Linked DNA regions of Homo sapiens. The protein of the gene in region 2 purifies or fractionates together with the protein of the main gene of each other region. This does not show direct contact. Each region holds a gene or a part of one and is shown on either strand. Other genes may lie near its edges.

Region 1 (10,017 bases), on a different chromosome or scaffold from region 2:
AAAGTTTTGATAATGTTGAATAATTTATTTTAGCTTTACTATGAGAATAAAGCTAAAAATAACAATAAAAAAGCTGATAAAAATGTTTTAAAGCAACTTCCTGTATATATATATATATATATAGTCGAGTTAGTAGCTCAGGTTCCTGTTTTTTAAATCTAGAACAATGATAACTAGTATTTTATATATATATATATATATACACACACACATACACACACCAATATTAATATATAATCATGGTGTATATATACCAATATTAATATATAATTATGGCATATATACAATATTAATATATAATTATGGTATACATATACATATATACACATCACATATACACCAGTTACCATTGTTATATTTATATCTATAATTGGTATATGTAATATATAGAGATAGCTATATATATCTATAATATAGATATCTCTATATACCAATTACCATTGTAATTATATATATAAAAATTCATATATATATATATGACATGCTCATCGGACATTTGGAGAACATCACTCTTAGGTGAAAATTGAGATCAGCATATTACATATCATAGGAGGATTTTTTTTCAACTACAAAGATTAGTGTTTTCTTGTTTAGAAAATTTAATCTAAGGATTTCTAATGTTTGAGCCTCATTATTTGATAATACACATATTTGTGTACATATATGCATGTATATATGCACATATACTATACACAGCACATCTGTGTTTGTCCTGCATTCTCTCTTGGAGAATTCAATCTTTAGGAGGAGGATTATCTTCATTCTGTTTTTAATTATCCAACATAGAAGTGTCCAAAGTTTTGGCTGACTTTTTAGAGAAAACATCATAAAACTGTGCAGGGAACATGTTCTTAGTGATTACCTGATTCTAAAATTATATCATAAAAAATATTGGGAAATACAATGTGGGGATGAATTACATAAAAGAATTCCATTTTTGGATGATCGTGAGTACCTTGATGGGATTAACTACCATAACCACATGGTTGGAACAGACACATTCAAACAACTTCTGTTTGTGTACACAGTCCCTAGGATTTCTAAGTGTTCTCAAATAATACCCTTGGCTCTTCTTAGCCATGTGATTATGGAAAAGTAAAGATTTGGCAAAAGGAAAGCTCTTTAATATAAGCAGGGACCAATGGCAAAAAGAGAAAAATCCCCATCAAGTCTTAGAAAAAGATAAAGAACATATTCAAAGAACTCAGAGAAGGTCCTGATCTTGGAAGGACCAACTTCCAGGGCAGGCAGTGGGACTCTGAAGAGGAAAGGGGCAAGCTCTTGGCCCTTACCCTGGGCAGGAAAGATCTTGGAGGGAAGATCTGGTAATTTGTAATTCCAAGGAAAACCACGCCTGACAAAGGGGGTGACACAGATCCTGAGAGGGAGGAAGCAGCACTTCTTCCCCTCCCCACCACTGGAGTTCGCCAGGGCTGTGTTTTCTCTACAGTGCTTCTGCCTGATGGTCTAGGGAAGGGAGGCTTTTATAATAAGGGGATTCAATATACGGGAAGGGGCACTAGAGCACTGAAGCTCTTTGGATTTCTGAGAGCTCTGGTTTGGCTAGCCTAAAATTAGCATCTATCTTACAGTTTTTACCCCAACTAGCCTGGCTCTGTGTCTACTGAAAACCTATACATGTTGGCATGGCACAGGTTCAGCTGTCATTGCTCTCTGTATGTGTGTGTGTGTGTGTGTGTGTGTGTGTGTGTGTGTGTGTGTGCGTGCATGTGTGCCCGAGTGTGTGAGAGGGAGGAGCAGGGGAGGGAGAGAGAGAAGGAAAACCTATGGAAAAAGTTACCTTTCTTCTTTCCTCTGCAGCCTCCAGTTTCTTCTGGATCTCCTCCAGGGACAGGTCTTTCTTCTTTGGAGAAGCTAAAGTTCGTGGGGCTTCTGAGATAGGAGATGGTGGCTTCAAGATCAGCTCAAAAGCCTGGCCAGAGGCACGTTTGTTGATTTGCTTCACTTCCATATCTGAAAAGTGAACATTTGAGAATGTTAAGCATACAAAGCTTGCAGCATGGGTTTATTTTAATAATTTAGATTCCAGCAATTGGAAGTAGCGTTGTTATTCCGGGAGATAGGAATAAAATGCTGTTTATGAGCATTTGCTCTATGTTGTTTAGAACATATAAGACCTCTCTGTCTTTAGTGTAACTATGGATATATTTTAACAGAATAAATATTTACCATATTGAGAAATTTGACAATATCTGCAGGGAGTTGAATAACGGTAAGCATACTTAGATAAAAATAGCCTAAATTGATTTTAAATTAAGCTTTATTTTCCTTTTGAACAAATATGAGCTTTGCATGAAAATCAAGTAGCACAGATTTATTTGTTTGGAAATTATCGTAGCTGTAGGCCCTTTTTGGTTAGACGAGAAACATAACGGAGTTCTTCAGTTCTCACATATAATGAGATATCATTATCTAGATATGCGTATATATGCATGCACCATTATATATATTATCACCATTCCTGTGCTTAGGAATCACAGGAGCTTCGTTAGAACCAATGTAACTCCCTGAACAGTTGGGCATATTTGGCAAAGTCAATGCTGAAATGCAAAGCATCCTGCTGATTTCTGTTTTGCCCTTCTGTATGTTCATTGCTTCCAGTCATCAATCATGCACAGTGCCCACTCCAGGGATGACAACATCACTCTGTGATGGGGGTCCTTGTCTTCAAGATGCTTACAGTCTAATGGGGGCAATAAGACAACACCCCATTGTAATGTCTTTGCTCCTGTGTTGTTGCTGTTTAGAATATCCTCCTCTAGTGTACTCGGCTGGAGCCAGGAGCCAGGGATAGAGCCACTGTGGTGGAGGAGGGAGTGGCAACATCTACTAATCTAATTTATACACATACACATGGAATACTGTTCAGCCTTAAAAAAGTTGGGGGAAATCCTGTCATTTTTGACAACATGGGTGAACCTGGAGGACACTATGCTAAGTGAAATAAGCTAGGCACAGAAAGACAAATACCACATGATCTCACTTACATGTGGACTATTCATAAAGTTGAACTCACGGAAGCAGAGTAGAATTGTGGTTACCAGGGGTTAGGGGTGGAGACTGGGGAGATGTTGATCAAAGAATACATAATTTCAGTTAAACAGGAAGAACAAATGCAAGAGACTTATTATTGAGACGGAGTTTCCCTCTTTTGCCAGGCTGGAGTGCAGTGGCACTATCTCGACTCACTGCAACCTCCGCCTCCCAGGTTCAAGCAATTCTCCTGCCTCAGCCTCCTGAGTAGCTGGGACTACAGGCGCTTACCACCACACTCAGCTAATTTTTCTATTTTTAGTAGAGGCAAGGTTTCAGCATGTTGGTCAGGCTGGTCTCGAACTCCTGACCTCGTGATCTGCCAGCCTTGGCCTCCCAAAGTGCTGGGATTATAGGCGTGAGCCACCACGCCCGGCCGCAGAAGACTTATTGTACACCATGCTGACTATTGTTAATAACAATGTACTGTATTCTTGAAAATCACTGAAAGAGTAGATTTTTTGTTCTCATCACAAATAAATGACAGGTGTGTGAGGTAATGCATATGTGAATTTGCTTCACTTAGCCATTCTCTAATGTATACATATTTCAAAATATGCCATACACCGCAAACATATACAATTTTTGTCAATTAAAAAAAGAACTGAAGAATGGTTAGCCACTTATTTTCTATCAGTGGCTTATGTATTAAAGATAAGCAGATTATCAGACCCTTATGTTTTAAGCCTGTATAATACAAATTATAACATAAAATAGTATAATTTATAATAGAAAAGATGACAGCTAGCACCTGCTAGGACATTTATAATTACAGAACTCACAATTTAGTAAAATGCAATGATTTTTAAAAGAACCTCGCTGGTCAGCCCTCAATTTCAGATGAGCATTCTTTGAGTCCCAAACTCCATCTCTCTGGTTTTAGCCCACTGATCCTTGTTTGAAGTCTGAAGCTACCCATGATTAGGCCATTCTCTGTGGTGCACCACCATTTTTCAAGTATTTGAAAACAGTTATGTTCCATTTCAAGTTGTTCCCCCAGGCTAAACATCTTCAAGTGCCCCAGAATGACACTGTTTCTAGATCTTTACCACCATATTATTTCCTAACCTCTAAGTGCTCTCTAATTTATTAACGTCTTTTTAAAATTGTGGCAACCAAGCCAGCAGGTTATGTTCCCGTTAATGTTCTTTTAGCAGCCTGGTTAGTGCACATGGAGGTTGTGGTCAAGTAAAATGCCAGGCTGGCAGGCCTTGACCTCAGATCCTTAGCTGCTAATAGATAGTCTAGATAATACTAACTCAATAACTATATTGGAAATGATGTGGGCTTTTTCCTTCACAAATGTAAAAATGTTTTTCATTTTCCTGATGGCATCCAAGATTATACTTAAATTTTAAATACAATTTTATAAAAATTATGGAAACCTATGGATAAGGATTATAAGAGAACACGGGCAAATAAAAACAGCTTATTTGATAAGGTGATGGGGTTTTAAATGCCTTAGATTAGAGGCTCTGGAATTAGAACTGCCTATATTTGCATCCAAATAGTAAGCCCCTCTTAATAGCTGTGTGACACTAGGTAAGTTAATTAACTTCTTTATGCTTTTATTTCCTCATTTAAAAGATGGAAATAAAAAGAGTACCTTCCTTCTAAGGTGGTTGTGAAGATTAAATGATAAAGGATGCTGAATGCAAAGCACAAGCCATATACTTAGTGCTTACAAATGTAAACAATAATAATAATTTATTGTTATAATGTTTGCCTGCAATAAACAAGTCACGTTATTATCTAACATAGAAATACCAGGTCAAGTTAAAGACTGCAGAAATTTGAAATTCTCTACGGACTCTTTTAGGAAGCACAGTTTACGAGAAATGTTGAATTATCTATTCAACTTTAAATACAGCTCAATAAAAATTATGGAAGCCTATGGAAAAGGATTATAAGAGAACGCAGGCAAATAAAAACAGCTTATTTCAAGAATCAGCTCACACATAACTTCACATATTTTCTTCCCCTTTTTTCATTCCCTAACCCAGCAAAAACCATCCCTGGCTCCTTTGTCCTAACCACTCTGTGTTCTACATTCTAGTCATTTGTGTAAGACTCTTCTACTAAGCCCTGAATTCTTTGAAGGTGAGGACTACGCCCTATGGAACTCTGGATCCTCAGTGACAACCCATAGTTCGACATTAGTCTCATAAGAAACATAGCTGGATCCTTCTTCACAGCTACATCTAGCAAATAATAAAGGTCTGTCTAATTTATTTGCTGACCGAATGAATTTGTACAAAGTAGGCATTGGCCCTGCATTCTAATGAATGTTTTGTTTGGAGACAGAATTCCTTTCACATGGAGGACATTTCCTTATGGAACAGTTAATTAGCATTTATGATTTTTGTGCTACGATAGAATAACTTTGGAAGGTAAATGCCTTTGAGTCCTTGAATAGGCTTTAAAGGTGCAGAAGGGGTTAACTGCCACAAGGTCAGTTTGTTTTGTCATTAATGTCTTTCTTTACATATATGGAAAAGAAAAATATTTGTGAGCCTGAGAGTTAGTAAAATATGCCTTAGGGATATCTAGGATACATAGAACTGTATAAAATATTTTAGTTAAATTGACTGAATTAGGTAAGGATGATGTTGATAATGATAGCTATCATTGTAGAGTGATATAATGAGCTAGGCTTGGTTTTGCATATTTGACTTACATTAAACCGTTTAAACCTCACAACAACTCCAAGAGGAAGATGCTAGAGTTAAATGAGACTTAGAGAATCCAAGTATCTATTTGACCAAGATCATGTGGATTGTGGCAGAGCCAAAGTAAGCAAAATGAATCAGGATAAATCAAACCTAAAGAGTTGCACCTCAATCATGTTAATTGCCATGCTAATTCTTTAGGCTTTTCTTTTCAGACCCTCTTTATCTAGGGCCTCAGTCGTAAGTCAGTTTTATTTATTGAGCCAATTATTATTATCATTAGCTGGTTGACATGTATATACAAAGTATAGAAACTTTATAAAGACTACAATAAAGCAAAAACAATTATGGTTGTTGATTCTTTCTCTTGAGTTTTCTAAGTATAAAGCATTTTCTTACAAATTATGATCTACTCCAATTATGGCTTAGCCTATTAAATTATTTGCAAAGAAAGACCTTAGACATATTGTGGATGTTGATATGCTGGATGTGGCTGTTAATAAGAATCCATCCACATTTCTTAACAGACATTGATGTGTTGTTATTAGCACCAAATTCAAACTGTTTTCAGCAATAGGTAATCAATTGGACATAATAGCTAGACACGGCAAGTCAATAGTGAGAGCTACAAAATATTGATGTAATTATATCAGGAGCTGTAAGAAACAAATATATGTCAACCTTTCCAAATGATCTAGCTAGCAGGGGTATGTCTATCCTAGGTTACTCACCATCGTAAGTATAGATGTTGATGTTGCGAGGTTCCGGGTAAAAGCAAGAGCAGATCAGTGACAGCATGGACAGCTCCTTCATTTTTTCCTTGTAGGCTGAAATGAAAAGCTGAAGATTAGTATATTTCATTTTTTCTGAATTTCTCTTTACTGCTTCCTTTAATTTGAATAATAATTATTGCCTCCTGCAGAGTGAATATTGCCAGGTAGACTCCTTTGCATTCTTTCACTAAATATAAAGGAATGCAAGATGTCAACAGAATTCTGAAGTGCATGTTCCTTAGTGCAGAGGAGATCAATTGCATAGTATAGCAGGTTAAATAACAAGAGAAAGAAAGGGAGTTAGAAAAACAAAGGAAGGTCGAAGGAATTAAGATCTAGCAGGATAGGAGGGAGAGAGAGGAAACAGATGGAATTAGTGGAAGCAGACATGATTACCAGAGAGAGAGGCTCATTCTAGTAAATGTGCATGCAGGTCTATTGTACATAAGTAAGATTCCGGAGGGCTACTCTGATGGTTCAGCCTGAATTGCCACGTACTCATTTGGGAATAGTCAGATAACTCATCAGGATAGTTATTAAGCAAACACATTATCCAGGGTCCTATGTTGCTGCTTTCTCTTAATCTCCAAGTGCATTTTCTTATCTGTCCATCTTTTCTTTTTTCTTTCCTCTCTCTCTTTGAGACAGAGTTGCTCTGTTACCCAGGCTGTAGTGCAGTGGTGTGATCCCAGCTCACTGCAACCTCCACCTCCTGGGCTCAAGTGATGTTCCCCCCTCAGCCTCCCCATTAGCTGGGACTACAGGTGCGCTCCACCATGCCTGGATAATTTTTGTATTTTTTGTACAGACAGAGTTTCACCAGGTTTCTCAGGCTGGTCTTGAATTCCCGGGCTCAAGCAATCCACCCACCTTGGCCACCCAAAGTGCTGGGATTACAGGTGTGAGCCTCTATTTCCAGCCTCTTTCTTTCTTTCTTTTTTTTTTAATTTCAAGTTTTATTTTAGATACAAGGGGTATATGTGCAGTCTTTTTACATGGGAATATTAAATGATGCTGATGTTTGGGGTGTAAATCCCATCACCCAGGTATTGAGCATAGCACCTGATAGGTAGTTTTACAAACCTCTCTCCTTCCCCCCTCTAGTAGTCCACAGTGTTTATTGTTCTCATATTTATGTCCATGTGTGCTCAGTGTTTAGCTCCCACTTATAAGTGAGAACATGCTGTATTTGGTTTTCTGTTCCTGTGTTAATTCACTTAGGATTATGGGTCCCAACTGCATCCATGTTGCAGCAAAGGACATGATTTCATTTTTTCTTATGGCCATGTTGTATTGCATGCTTTATATTTACCCCATTTTCTTTATCCAATCTGCCATAGATGGACACCTAGTTTGATTCCATGTCTTAGCTATTGTGAATAGTGCTGCCATGAACATACAAGCACATGTGTCTTTTTAATAGAATGATTTATTCTCCTTTGGGTATACACCAAGTAATGGGATTGCAAGGTCAAATGGCAGCTCTGTTTTAAGTTCTTTGTCTCTCCCTCTTTCTACACACACCAAAGCCCTCGATCTGAGCTCTGATTACATCTGATAAGGATCTCCTTCCCTCCGTTGCAACCCAGCTTGTGTGCCAACCTTGCCATGCAGTTGCAAGAGTCCAGATTGTCACCTCCTCAATCCTTCACTCCCCTTCCCCATTTCATTTTCTCATTTTTTCTCTAGGAAGCCTCCTGCCCTGGTAAACTTGGTGAGTATCTCATCACTGTCAGTTGTCATCAGGCCAAGTATCTGCAAACTACCAGATGGGGATAAGGAGGTAAAATCTTCTTACTTTTGTTAATTATGCAATTAGTAAAATTAATAAATTAAGGAAAATGGTAGAAAATGATGGGTATACTGTGCACTAACTTGTGAGAAAGTATAAACAGATGGCTGTGAAATAAAATATAGACCTCCCAGGTTAACAGTTTCTTCTTGGCAGGGGCTTCTGATCATTACTATAATATAACCCAAGGGAGAGTGGGTATCTTGGGAAAGAGGATTCTCAGAAGATGAGTTTGGGCATTATTGACAGGTGCATCTTTTCTTGGCCAGAAAGAAACATATTCAACCCCTGGATGCTTTAGATCCACAGATACTAGAATTATTCTAAGAGATTATTTAGTCAACTGTCCACCTACCTCACCACCAATTTTACAAATGAGGATATAGCCCCACAGAGGCCAAAGTCACATGTAGCCAGTGACAACGGTGAAGCTTCTGGATAAATTGCAGTAAATCAATCTATTTAAAAACTGCCAGAAGGCTTTCTTCTAGCTCTACAATTTTAGGATGAGGTTCAATGTGTTAACAGGTGCAATGATCAAATATCATTTGCCTATGATTCAACCTAACACATCCTGAGGATCTGCTAAAAGAATCCCCTCACTATTTAGCTTATTTTCTTAAAATAAGCAATACATGTTGTCCTGTGCCATAAAAGTCCTGGAACATCCATTCTGAGATATTTTGTTGAACGCCTTTGGAATTTTAGAAGGCTAAACCAAATTTCTTTGTATCATTTGTTTATTCAGTTAATGAAATTGTGTCACTTATAAAGGCCCAGGCAGATCCAGATTTATATGGAGTTAAGTGAGAATCATAATTTCTGCCAGAGCATAAAACATTTAATACATTTAATTCCATGAACTAATTGAAAACAGTAACAGCAAGGTTTTGTAGGCTGGTACCTTTTTTGGAAGAGAAATGCATTCTGGTATGCAAAACATTTTGCAAAATTAAGCACATATTAGAAACACATGAAGCATATTACATGCCGACTTTATTAAGAAGGGTCAATCCAAACATAAAAATAAAATAAAAGATTTTCCATCTCACAAAGTAGTAACAGATGAAAGCTGTATCGGAACGTGAATTTTTAGTGAAGAAAAAACTCCTCAATATCTGTCCTTAGGAAACTAAATTCAATAATTTTCAGTAAGGCCACTGCCCTAATTATGCTTGACAAGCTAATAAAGAGAAGTGAGTGTAAAAACTATCAGAAGCTAGCACATTTAGAGCCCTATGTATAATGAGTAATCATTACTATTATGGACTGAATATTTGTGTCCCCGCAAAATTTGTATTTGAAATCTAATTCCCAATGTGATAGTATTTGGAGGTGGGGTCTTTGGAGAGTAATTAGATGATGAAGGTGAAGCCTTCATGAATGGGATTAGTGTCCTTATAAGAAGAGACCAGAGAGCTAGCTCAATCTCCTTTTGCCACATGAAAATGCAGCTAGAAGTTGGCAGTCTGCAAAAGCAAAGTAGGCCCTAACTAGAATCTGATCATTCTGGCGGCCTGATCTCAGACTTCCAGTTTCCAAAGCTGTGAAAAATAAATTTCTGTTGTTTATAAGCCACCTAGTCTATGGTACTTTGTTTTATCAGCTAAAACTAAGAAAATGACTGATAAAAATGTTCTTTCTTGTTCGAGGTGGTCTGGGGACAAAACCCAGTTAACCTCTGTGGGTGGTGATTCCTTTAATAGCATTTTTATCTTTACTGTTATTT
Region 2 (10,017 bases):
TAAGGAAGCAGTCTTTATTTGCATTTTTAGAGTGAACACATATATGAAAAACACTGCAACAGGTTGACACAATGCTCAGTCCCTTTTTAAGTGAATTCCTGGGGAGAAAGTCAAGGACCTTAGGGAGCAGAGCAGTGGAATGCAAACACAGAAATTACCTATGAGTCACTTTTGTGAGCCAATGACACGGCCTCACTGCAGCCATTCCAAGAAGTATCTTTGCTCACGGTAAATGCAAAGTAAACAAAATACCACACTGCATATTTGAAACAAACAAATGTGACGTTGCCTATACTGGCCTCATGTGCAGAAGGAATTTTGGTCAGACAATGACAAAAAAAAAAAACAAAACAGATTGTGAAATGGAATTAAAAGCACAATTCTTTGTATCTGGGAACGTTTCACTGGCAACACTAACTGTATGATACAGACGTTACCTGGAACAGTAGTTATGTTTCTCTTCCTATCCCCAAAGAAGCACAATAGAAGAAATAGACGCAAAATGGAGGAGGGTGTTGTTTACCAGGTTATTTCAGTGCAGCCTGTGGGAATGAATACACGGGCCACAGTGAGCAGTGCCCTTGGCTGTATTCCCCAGGGTTCTGTATGTTGTGCGATGGTTATATACAAGAGGGTTTGACAAAAGAGAGTTAACTACTAAAGGTATCCAAAAAAGGCCTGAGAAAATCTGGTTAAAATGTATAACCTTGTATTGCTACTGATGGGAGTTGTTTTTATATCTTTTACAAATAATAAAAAGATTGTTAAAAAATAGATTTATCCAGAAAGATGTTGATTTGAACTCTAAAAAGCAACGTGGAATCATTATTTTCCCTTTTGAATGAAGAGCCATGGAGCTCCGTGGTTTTCAGCTCCCTTTCTGGTTGCAAATCAATCCTTCCTCTGGAGTGAGTCTAGGGCATGCGGGCTCTTCCTAGGTGTCTACGTGGAAATCCTTCACTCATGCAGGTGTAGAACACACCTGGTTTGGTTCTGTGTGTTCCAATATTTTGGCCAGCTTGCCCACTTCAAGAACAAGCCTCAGGTTCCCCTAGCTGCTCCTTCAGGGACAGGATTAGCTGCCTTTGATTTAGCCTGGAGAATCCTGCTCTCAAAAGAATTGCCTTTACAAATTCAAATCAGATCCTTCGATGCGTGCAGTGAGGTGATGTGAAACTATTAGTAATGTTTAAGGCTAAGGCAACATCCATGGCCATTTGTGTATCTTAATTTGATGCAAATAGTTAACAATAATCTAAAATAGATTCTATATGTATCTCCTCTAACTTTAGCTGGGTGTGGAAGGAATGGAATCAGATAGATGGAGGAAGAATAATGACAATGTCCTAGAAACCCTGTAAAAAGGTAAAAATAAGGAGATCAGCACAGATTACCCATTTCTTTGGTGAACAGTAAAGAAGTGTCTCCAATTCTCATAGATCACACTTTACAAAGGCGGCTGCTGCTCTTATATATAAAAGCACCCTGACTCTGCAATAACTTGTCTTGTTATCACTCCTTGATAAAAATTTATCTACAAACCTGCGGGGATTGGGGTTTTGTCTAAAGCTGGTAGTAAAAATGTGACCTGCAAGCCAATACAGCTAATGGAAAGTGATGATGCTCTCCTCCCCTTAGCCTGGAGATGGGGCCTGCAATCCCTGGTCCCTTCTCCACCCCAGGGAGCAGCCTGGATGGGCCCAGGAGTCCCTGGTTCTGCACCTCTGCATAAAGAAGGGGCAGTTGTTGCCTGCTGCATGCACGCAAGGTGCAGGCCCTTAGCCCTAGGGCCCTGGTTGACACAGCATCTGTGACAGCCCACAGCCTCTGCTTTGTGCAGAGGCTCACAGGCTGAAAGGTCTATTTGTCAGTGAGTGACAGCTGTAAGACTTGCTGGAGCTCAGCCTCTTCCTCCTGGAGCCGGAGCTCCCATTCCTCCAGCTCTTTGGCAGAGAGCTCCATGGCTAGCTGCAAGTCATTATCAAAACGGCTTGTCTCGCTCAGGGCGCTGGGGCACAGGCCTTCTGTGCTGGTGAGGAGGCTCTCCTGGATGGCCCTGGGTTGGAAAACAGATAAAAAGGGAGAGTCACTACTATCATCATCATGGTGGCAGCAGTAACTACATTTCTTAACCGCTTACCAAGGGCACACTGTGCCAGGCATTTAATATGCATGATGCCAATTAATCCCACATAACTGGCGGTGTAGGTGTTGTATACGGGTGAGAAACCCCACAATCTTGCCCAAGACCACCCAACCAGTAAGTGATAGGGCTGGGAATTGAACTTGGATCTGTTTTAAAGCAAAACTCAGGTTCTTCATCAACAGGCTCTCATAGACACCTTAAGTATAAGTCTTCGTAAAATGAATCCTCGCGGTTTTTCCCGTAATCTCTGGAGCTGTTCCTCCAAACTTCCTTATCTTTACAATTATATAAACTTCCCACTGAGGACATCTAGGCCCTGTGATCATACATCATTCATAGAAGATCAAACCAATCAGAAAAAACTGACTCAGTACGTTTCCCCCAATGGCACTGACCTGTGAACCAGTCAGCAATTCTATCACCCATTCCTGGAAACTTGCTATCAAGAGTCTAGAGTTATTATAAGTAACTGCCACAAGAGGAAGCAAGAGAGCCAACACTTTAGTCTTTTTTTTTTTTGAGACGGAGTCTCGCTCTATCGCCCAGGCTGGAGTGCAGTGGCGCGATCTCGGCTCACTGCAAGCTCCGCCTCCTGGGTTTGCCATTCTCCTGCCTCAGCCTCCCGAGTAGCTGAGACTACAGGTGCCTGGCACCATGCCCGGCTAATTTTTTGTATTTTTTTTAGGAGAGACAGGGTTTCACCGTGTTAGCCAGGATGGTCTCAATCTTCTGACCTCGTGATCCGCCTGCCTCGGCCTCCCAAAATGCTGGGATTATAGGCGTGAGCCACCGCTCCTGGCCTACTTTTTCTAGTCTTTCCTGCCAGTTTGTGGCACCGTACATCTGCCTGAGGACCAAATGCACAGTGCCACGCGTCTGCTCGCCTGTGTCCAGGCCTGTGTTCACCCTGGTTTATTCCAGAGTCACGTCAGTCAATCACCTCTCATACTGGGCGTCATAGGTGTTTGTCTGGCTGATCCCTCCATTCGAAGCTGGTCCTGAAAGTTCCTGGCAAAGACAAATGTGATAGACATGAATACGTCTTAGGAGAAATTGGTGCCATTCTGGTAAGGAAACGATGGCAGCAAGAACCAAATTAAAAGTCTTTCCATGACCATTATCAATAGTGCTGTGTGAAAAGCTAACAGGGACTTGGGTTACCTCAAAAACAACACCTAAGTGGGAGGTAGTAACATGCCACAGCCTAACTCACAGCCACAACCTTCTCATCCTTTGTACAAAATCAGTCTCTTAAATACAGCTAACCCACGTGGAAGATATACACAACGAAAAGCAAAAACACAGCTGACCTTGGGCAAAGTTCAAGTGACCAAAGCAGGTTTTTGTTTTTTTAGAGACAGGGTCGCACTCTGTTGTCCAGGCTCAAGGGTAGTGATGTGATCGTAGCTCACTGCAGCCTTGACCCCAGGGCACAAGAAATCCTCCCACCTAAGCCTCCTGACTAGTTGGGAATACAGGTGCACACCACCATACTTGGCTTTTAAAATTTTTTGGTAGAGGCTAGGCATGGTGGCTCACACCTCTAATCCCAGCACTTTGGGAGGGCAAGGCTGGTGGATCACTTGAGGTCTGGAGTTTGGGATCAGCCTGGACAACATGGTAAAACCCCGTCTCTACTAAAAACACAAAAACTAGCTGGGTCTGGTGGTGCGCACCTGTAATCCCAGCTACTCGGGAGGGTGAGGCATGAGAATCACTTGAACCTGGGAGGCAGAGGCTGCAGTGAGCCAATATTGTGCCCCTGCACTGCAGCCTGAGCAAAAGAGTGAGACTCTGCCTCAAAAATTAAAAAAAAAAAAAAATTTGGTAGATATAGGATCTCACTATGTTGCCCAGGCTGGTCTCAGACTCCTGGGCTCAATCAGTCCTCCCATCTTGGCTTCCCAAAGTGCTGGGATTATAGGCATGAGCCACTGCACCCAGCCAGTAATTCTTCTAGGGCAAGATTAGAAGACACAATTCAATACTGGTAGTCTTTGACTTTGGCTACTTCCCTTGTTAAAACTTATGGTCAACAAGGTTTATGAAGCTACTTGGGAGCTGGCGGGGGGAGCTAAGCTCACTTACATAGGGAAAGGAAAAGCATACCAGGCTGATGGTGATGTGCAGGGGTCTTCTCCCAGGATGCCTCCCAAAGGGAACATGCTTGCTTTGGGGTCTGGCTCGGAAAACTGAATGGGTCTGGGAATGGGGCCATGGTGGTGGCAGGGGGAAGTGGAGGAGGTAGACTCACATTACACAAGCACTAAGACTCAGGAATAGAACCAGAAAGCTATAAGCTTGAACCAGTGAGGACGCTGGAGTGTGAGCACTGTTCTCAAAGCAGCAGCCCTGTGAGGGCAGGGGCTGCTTCCCAGAGAATTCCCAGCACCTGGCACAGAGCCTGGCACAAAGAAGGTACTCTGCAAATATCTGAATGAAGAATGGAAGAAAAAGCCAATTAACAAATAAATGGACTGCAGGAACCCAGGACACACCAGAGGGTGCTGGAGGCAGACCAGACCCTACCCTAGTAGAGCCAGGAGGCACAGAAGGAAGGAGATGGAAGGAGTTGATGTTAGGGGAGGAGGACCTCAAGCCTTGGACTGTCCCAGGTAGGTGAGGCATGGAGGGAGAACCAGATATGACAATAAAAGGCAACTGTTCTACTGGGCACAGTGGTGCATGACTTTAGTCCCAGCTACTTGGGAGGCTGAGGTGGGAGGATCTCTTGAACCCAGGAGTTTGAGGGTGCAATATGATCATGCCGGGGAACAGCCACTGCACTCCGACTTGGGCAACATAGAGTCACACACACACACACAAAGCCTACTGCTTACACAGGTCTGTCCTGTCCTTCATTTTCTGTTTCACTAGAGACCCAGAGAGAGTTTAGGGAGATGGTACCCTTTGTGGAGGAAGTGGGATTCAAATCCACTTCACTACCTTCATCCGAGACTACTGACACACAGGTAATCCTTCAGGAAAAATATGATACTGCTTCAGTGCTAGAAAATGATGAAGCACATCTCAAAAAGTACAGAATTACAAGCTATGTGCGTGAATATGAGGAAAAGGAAAGTCTGCCTGAAGACATCTTGTGAATGGTGCTGACTGGGATTATGTAGATGGTCTCTTACATAACAAGCTTTTGTAAGAAGACCAGATGCACAAAGTATAACCTATGCAAATACCATGAATGTGTCAAACTTGATATTTAGAATAAATCTTTCAGATTAGCCAAACACTGAGGCTAACCCAGAGGGTAAGACCTCCCACGCCCTGCCATTAGAGTATTCTGATAAACACACCTGGCTCCTGCTGGACTCCAGCAGACTTTGCTGGATGGCAAACTGCATTATCTCGTAATCTTCATCTTGCAAATGCACATTTCTGCCATTGTCTTGAACATAGTAAGATTCGGGAATTTCAAACACAGATTGATCAACCTCAAAGTTTGTGATGTGGGAAGCTGAAACAAAAGGCAACCGTCCAGTGTCTGAGTTCATTACATTTCCACTCCAACTTTTTGCAAAAATGTTGTACATTAGAAAAAAAAGAAAGGCTCAAAATTATAACAATCAAGGCTTACTATTATATGAGAGATTCTGAGGAAGCATGACAGAAAAAAGTGACAGAATACAGCTTTTTTCTTTTTCCTTGATTTTAGTGGAAACAACGAACACAGTCATAAAAAAATACACAAGACTATAAAATGAAAAGCGCAGATTTCTCCCCCTAAACATATACGCACAGTCACACCAATGTGTTTCTTCCTTTTGCAGGAAGATATATGGTAAATATATAAAAGTATATATAAAATATCTGAACACTTAAAAATGATAATAATTAAACAAATGCCTGTGTGCCCTTCACCTAGCCTAAGACACAGAACACTATCAATAACTGCCGGGCGCGGTGGCTCACGCCTGTAGTCCCAGCACTTTGGGAGGCTGAGGCAGGCAGATCACAAGGTCAGGAGATCGAGACCATCTTGGCTAACATGGTGAAACCCCGTCTCTACTAAAAATACAAAAAAAAAAAAAAATTAGCCGGGCGTGGTGGCGGGCACCTGTAGTCCCAGCTACTCGGGAGGCTGAGGCAGGAGAATGGCATGAACCCGGGAGGCGGAGCTTGCAGTGAGCCAAGATCGCACCACTGCACTCCAGCCTGGGTGACAGAGTAAGACTGTCTCAAAAAAAAAAAAAAAAAAGAAAAAGAAAAAAACACTATCAATACCATACTGCGGGCACATCCCTTGTTAACAATATTCCCTTCTTCCTCTCCAGAGGTAAATACATAATTCAGAATAGTTGTTTACACTGCCTAGCTCTTCTCTGGAGCTTGCCACATGTATATCATCCTAATAGTTTGTATTAGCCTGTTTGTGAACTCGACATAAATGGAATCATGCGGAATTTATTCTTCAAATTGGATTTTCTTCATTCAACATTATGCTTTTGAAATTCAACAGTTTTGACGCACATAGCTATAAATTTTTATTTTCAATACTATATGTTATTCTGTTGTATTAATAGAGCACAATAGCGCATTCTACCATCTCGGGACATTTGGGTCGTTTCCAGGTTTCTGCTGTTATGAATGGATGCTGCTGCCCAGTACTGGGGTCTCCAGATGCTCATGTGCATAACTTTCTTTAGGGTACACATCTAGGAATTGCTAGGTCATCCACATCTTCAGTTTATACAGTAATGCCGAATGTTTTATTCAAGGAACTATACCAATCTCCTCTTCCAGCCAAGAGTGCACGAGTGTTCCTTAGCTGCACAACCTCATGAACACATCTCACCCAACTTTGTTGCTACATGGGAATGTAAAGGTGTATATTATTGTCGAGTTCAATTGTTTTTATTTGAAGTCTTAATTTATATACATTAAAATGCTATCTTTTAATTCCTCCTACTGGTAGACTACAGGGGAGAAACATAGGACCATCATGATAGTTGCAGAAAACACATCTCACAAAAATCAATACTTAAAAATGGTAATAACTCTCAGCAAACTAGAAATATAAGAGAATAATGTCCTCCAACTAATAAGGGACATTTATAAAAAACCTACACAGCTAACATCATACCTAATGGCACAACAATCCTTCCTCCCCTAGAACCAGGAACAAGACAAGGACAGCCATTCCTACCACTCTTACTCAACATTGTACTAGATGTCCTAGCCAGTCCAGTAAGTCAAGAAAAAGAAATGAAAAGCTTAAAGATTAGAAAGGAAAAAGTAAAATTTTCTTTATTAATAGACAACATGACCATATATGTAAGAAATTCTAAGAAATCTACAAAAAAGTGTAAGACAAGTAAATTCAGCCATGTTACAAGATAAACAAGGTCAATCCTGGCCATGCAATTGTGTAAGAAAAAAAAAAGATAAAAAATTTTTAAAAACGATTCAAGGTCAAAATACAAAACTCAATTATATTTCTATATACTAGTAACTGGAAATGAAATTAAGAAAATAAGTCCATTTACAATTGCATCTAAAATCATGAATTGTATTGATGGCAAAGGAGTGTAAGGAAATTTGGGGGCATATGGAAATGCTGTCTACCTTGACTATGGTGGTGGTTACACAGATGCATACATTTGTCAAAATGTGGCTGGGTATGGTGGCTCACACTAGCACTTTGGGAGGCCGAGCTGGGTGGATCACTTGAGGTCAGGAGTTCCAGACCAGCCTAGCCAACATGGTGAAACCCAGTCTCTAATAAAAATACAAAAATCAGCCAGGCATGGTGGCACGCACCTGTATTCCCAGCTACTTGGGAGACTAGGCAAGAAAATCGCTTGAGCCTGGGAGGCAGAGGCTGCAGTGAGCAGAGATTGTGCCACTGCATGCCAGCCTAGGTGACAGAGTGAGACTCTGAGAAAAAAAAAAAAAATGCACTGAACCATCACACTTAAAATGAGAGCATTTTATTGTATGTACATTACACCTCAATAAAGCTGATTTTTAAGAACATCCTTTCTTTTTAATATAACTAGGATCATATATATTCTACAAGTTTTTTTTTGCTTAATCTAAACTAAATCTGAAATTTTCTTTCATCCAACACAGACATCTACTCCCTCAGATATTCCAGCTTCAGAGTGAATTATGAATATGATGACTGAATTATAATTTTTTTTTTTTGAGATGTAGTTTTGCTCTTGTTGCCCAGGCTGGAGTGCAATGGTACAATCTCGGCTCACAGCAACCTCCATCCCCCCGCCTCTCCCCCAGTTCAAGCGATTCTCCTGCCTCAGCCTCTCGAGTAGCTGGGATTACAGGCATGCGCCACCACACCCGGCTAATTTTTGTATTATTAGTAGAGACAGGGTTTCTCCATGTTGGTCAGGCTGGTCTCAAACTCCCGACCTCAGGTGATCCACCCACCTCGGCCTCCCAAAGTGCTGGGATTACAGGCATAAGCCACCACGTCCGGCCATAAATTTTTTTTTAAATAACAAAACTAAACTTTGTATTTATTTATTTTTTTACCTGAATCAGCCTGGGTCCCTTCCACATTTTGAGATACAGATTCTTCGGCAGTGCTACAGCCATTAACATTTCCAAATGTAATCCGTGCATTTAAGACATGAAACAAGGGAATTTCTAACAAACAAAATAAAAACTTTTATAAGTAAACTTTACTGAGAATAACAATAATAGTTATCATTTACTAAGTGCTTACTATGCCAAGTACTTTGATAAGTATAATTTTATTTAAGCCTCATAACAACCCTTCCCAATACACAGACGGGAAAACTGAGATTGAGAGTTGTGTATTTTCGGTCAGGCGCGGTGGCTTACACCTGTAATCCCAGCACTTTGGGAGGCCAAGGCGAGCTGATCACCTGAGGTCAGGAGTTCGAGACCAGCCTAACCAACATGATAAAACCCCATCTCTACTAAAAATACAAAAATTAGCTGGGCGTGGTGATGCATGCCTATAATCCCAGCTACTTAGGAGGCTGAGGCAGGAAAATCGCTTGAACCCAGGAGGCAGAGGTTGCAGTGAGCCAAGATCATGCCACTTCATTCCAGCCTGGGCAACAGAGCGAGACTCCATCTCAAAAAAAAAAAAGAGAAAATGAGTTATGTATTTTCTCCTAGATCACAGTGAGTAAGTGATCAAGCCAGGGTTCAAGTATCATGAACATACAACTATCCAAAATTAATACTCTTCATGAGTAGTATGTATGATATATACATATATAGCATTATGCATACTAGCTTGGGACGTAGATCATATTTACATATCAAAGGATCTTGGTGTCAACTGTCTTCCTCAAATAATTATCTAATTTGAAGTCTCACTGAATTAAGGTTTGACATTAAAACAATGACTGTGTCATGTTTTTATGCCTTTTTATATCTGTCAGCACCATTTGCAAATAGAAATGATGGTTGGAGATCTCTTGACTTTGATACACAAAATGAACCACTAATCATAACACTTCTTTAAATCAAACCACAGGAGAACTCTGACCTCCTCTGTTATGTCTATAAGCTACTTTGACCTAAAGCACTCCAATTCCCTGAAGCATCCTGCCACCCACATGCTGCCACCCACAAACATGGGCAGAACCTCCAAGTGTTGCTGAAGTTTATTTAGCAGTACCTATTTTGACAGGAAATCCAGGTGGGAATTCCAATTTGATGAAATCTCTCAGTCTTGCAAAATGAGCACTCGTTCGAGCCATTAGGTCAATGATGGGAATGACCTGCTCCACCAGAGAGAGGGGAAACTCTTCACACATCCACAACATTGCTTTAAACCTGCAGAATTCAACCAAGAAAAGACTGAGGTCATCTCCACCAGATGGGAAAAGGAGATTATTGCTATGCAGTAGGCTAGA

The links.
Region 1: the proteins of ANKRD13A (region 2) and STMN2 purify together in Homo sapiens (co-immunoprecipitation; 2 studies listed by BioGRID and IntAct, with this or other methods). This does not show direct contact.

What each region holds. Positions count from the first base shown.
Region 1 is NC_000008.11:79,633,335-79,643,351, reverse strand, and holds part of STMN2 (stathmin-2), read right to left. Parts: intron 8,280-10,017; exon of another isoform or gene 8,186-8,279; intron 6,551-8,185; coding exon 6,455-6,550; intron 5,272-6,454; exon of another isoform or gene 5,186-5,271; intron 1,975-5,185; coding exon 1,802-1,974; intron 1-1,801. UniProt on the Homo sapiens protein: Regulator of microtubule stability. When phosphorylated by MAPK8, stabilizes microtubules and consequently controls neurite length in cortical neurons.
Region 2 is NC_000012.12:110,029,398-110,039,414, reverse strand, and holds part of ANKRD13A (ankyrin repeat domain-containing protein 13A), read right to left. Parts: intron 9,938-10,017; coding exon 9,780-9,937; intron 8,771-9,779; coding exon 8,657-8,770; intron 6,969-8,656; exon of another isoform or gene 6,705-6,968; intron 5,619-6,704; coding exon 5,458-5,618; intron 3,155-5,457; coding exon 3,087-3,154; intron 2,057-3,086; coding exon 1,861-2,056; 3' UTR 1-1,860. UniProt on the Homo sapiens protein: Ubiquitin-binding protein that specifically recognizes and binds 'Lys-63'-linked ubiquitin. Does not bind 'Lys-48'-linked ubiquitin.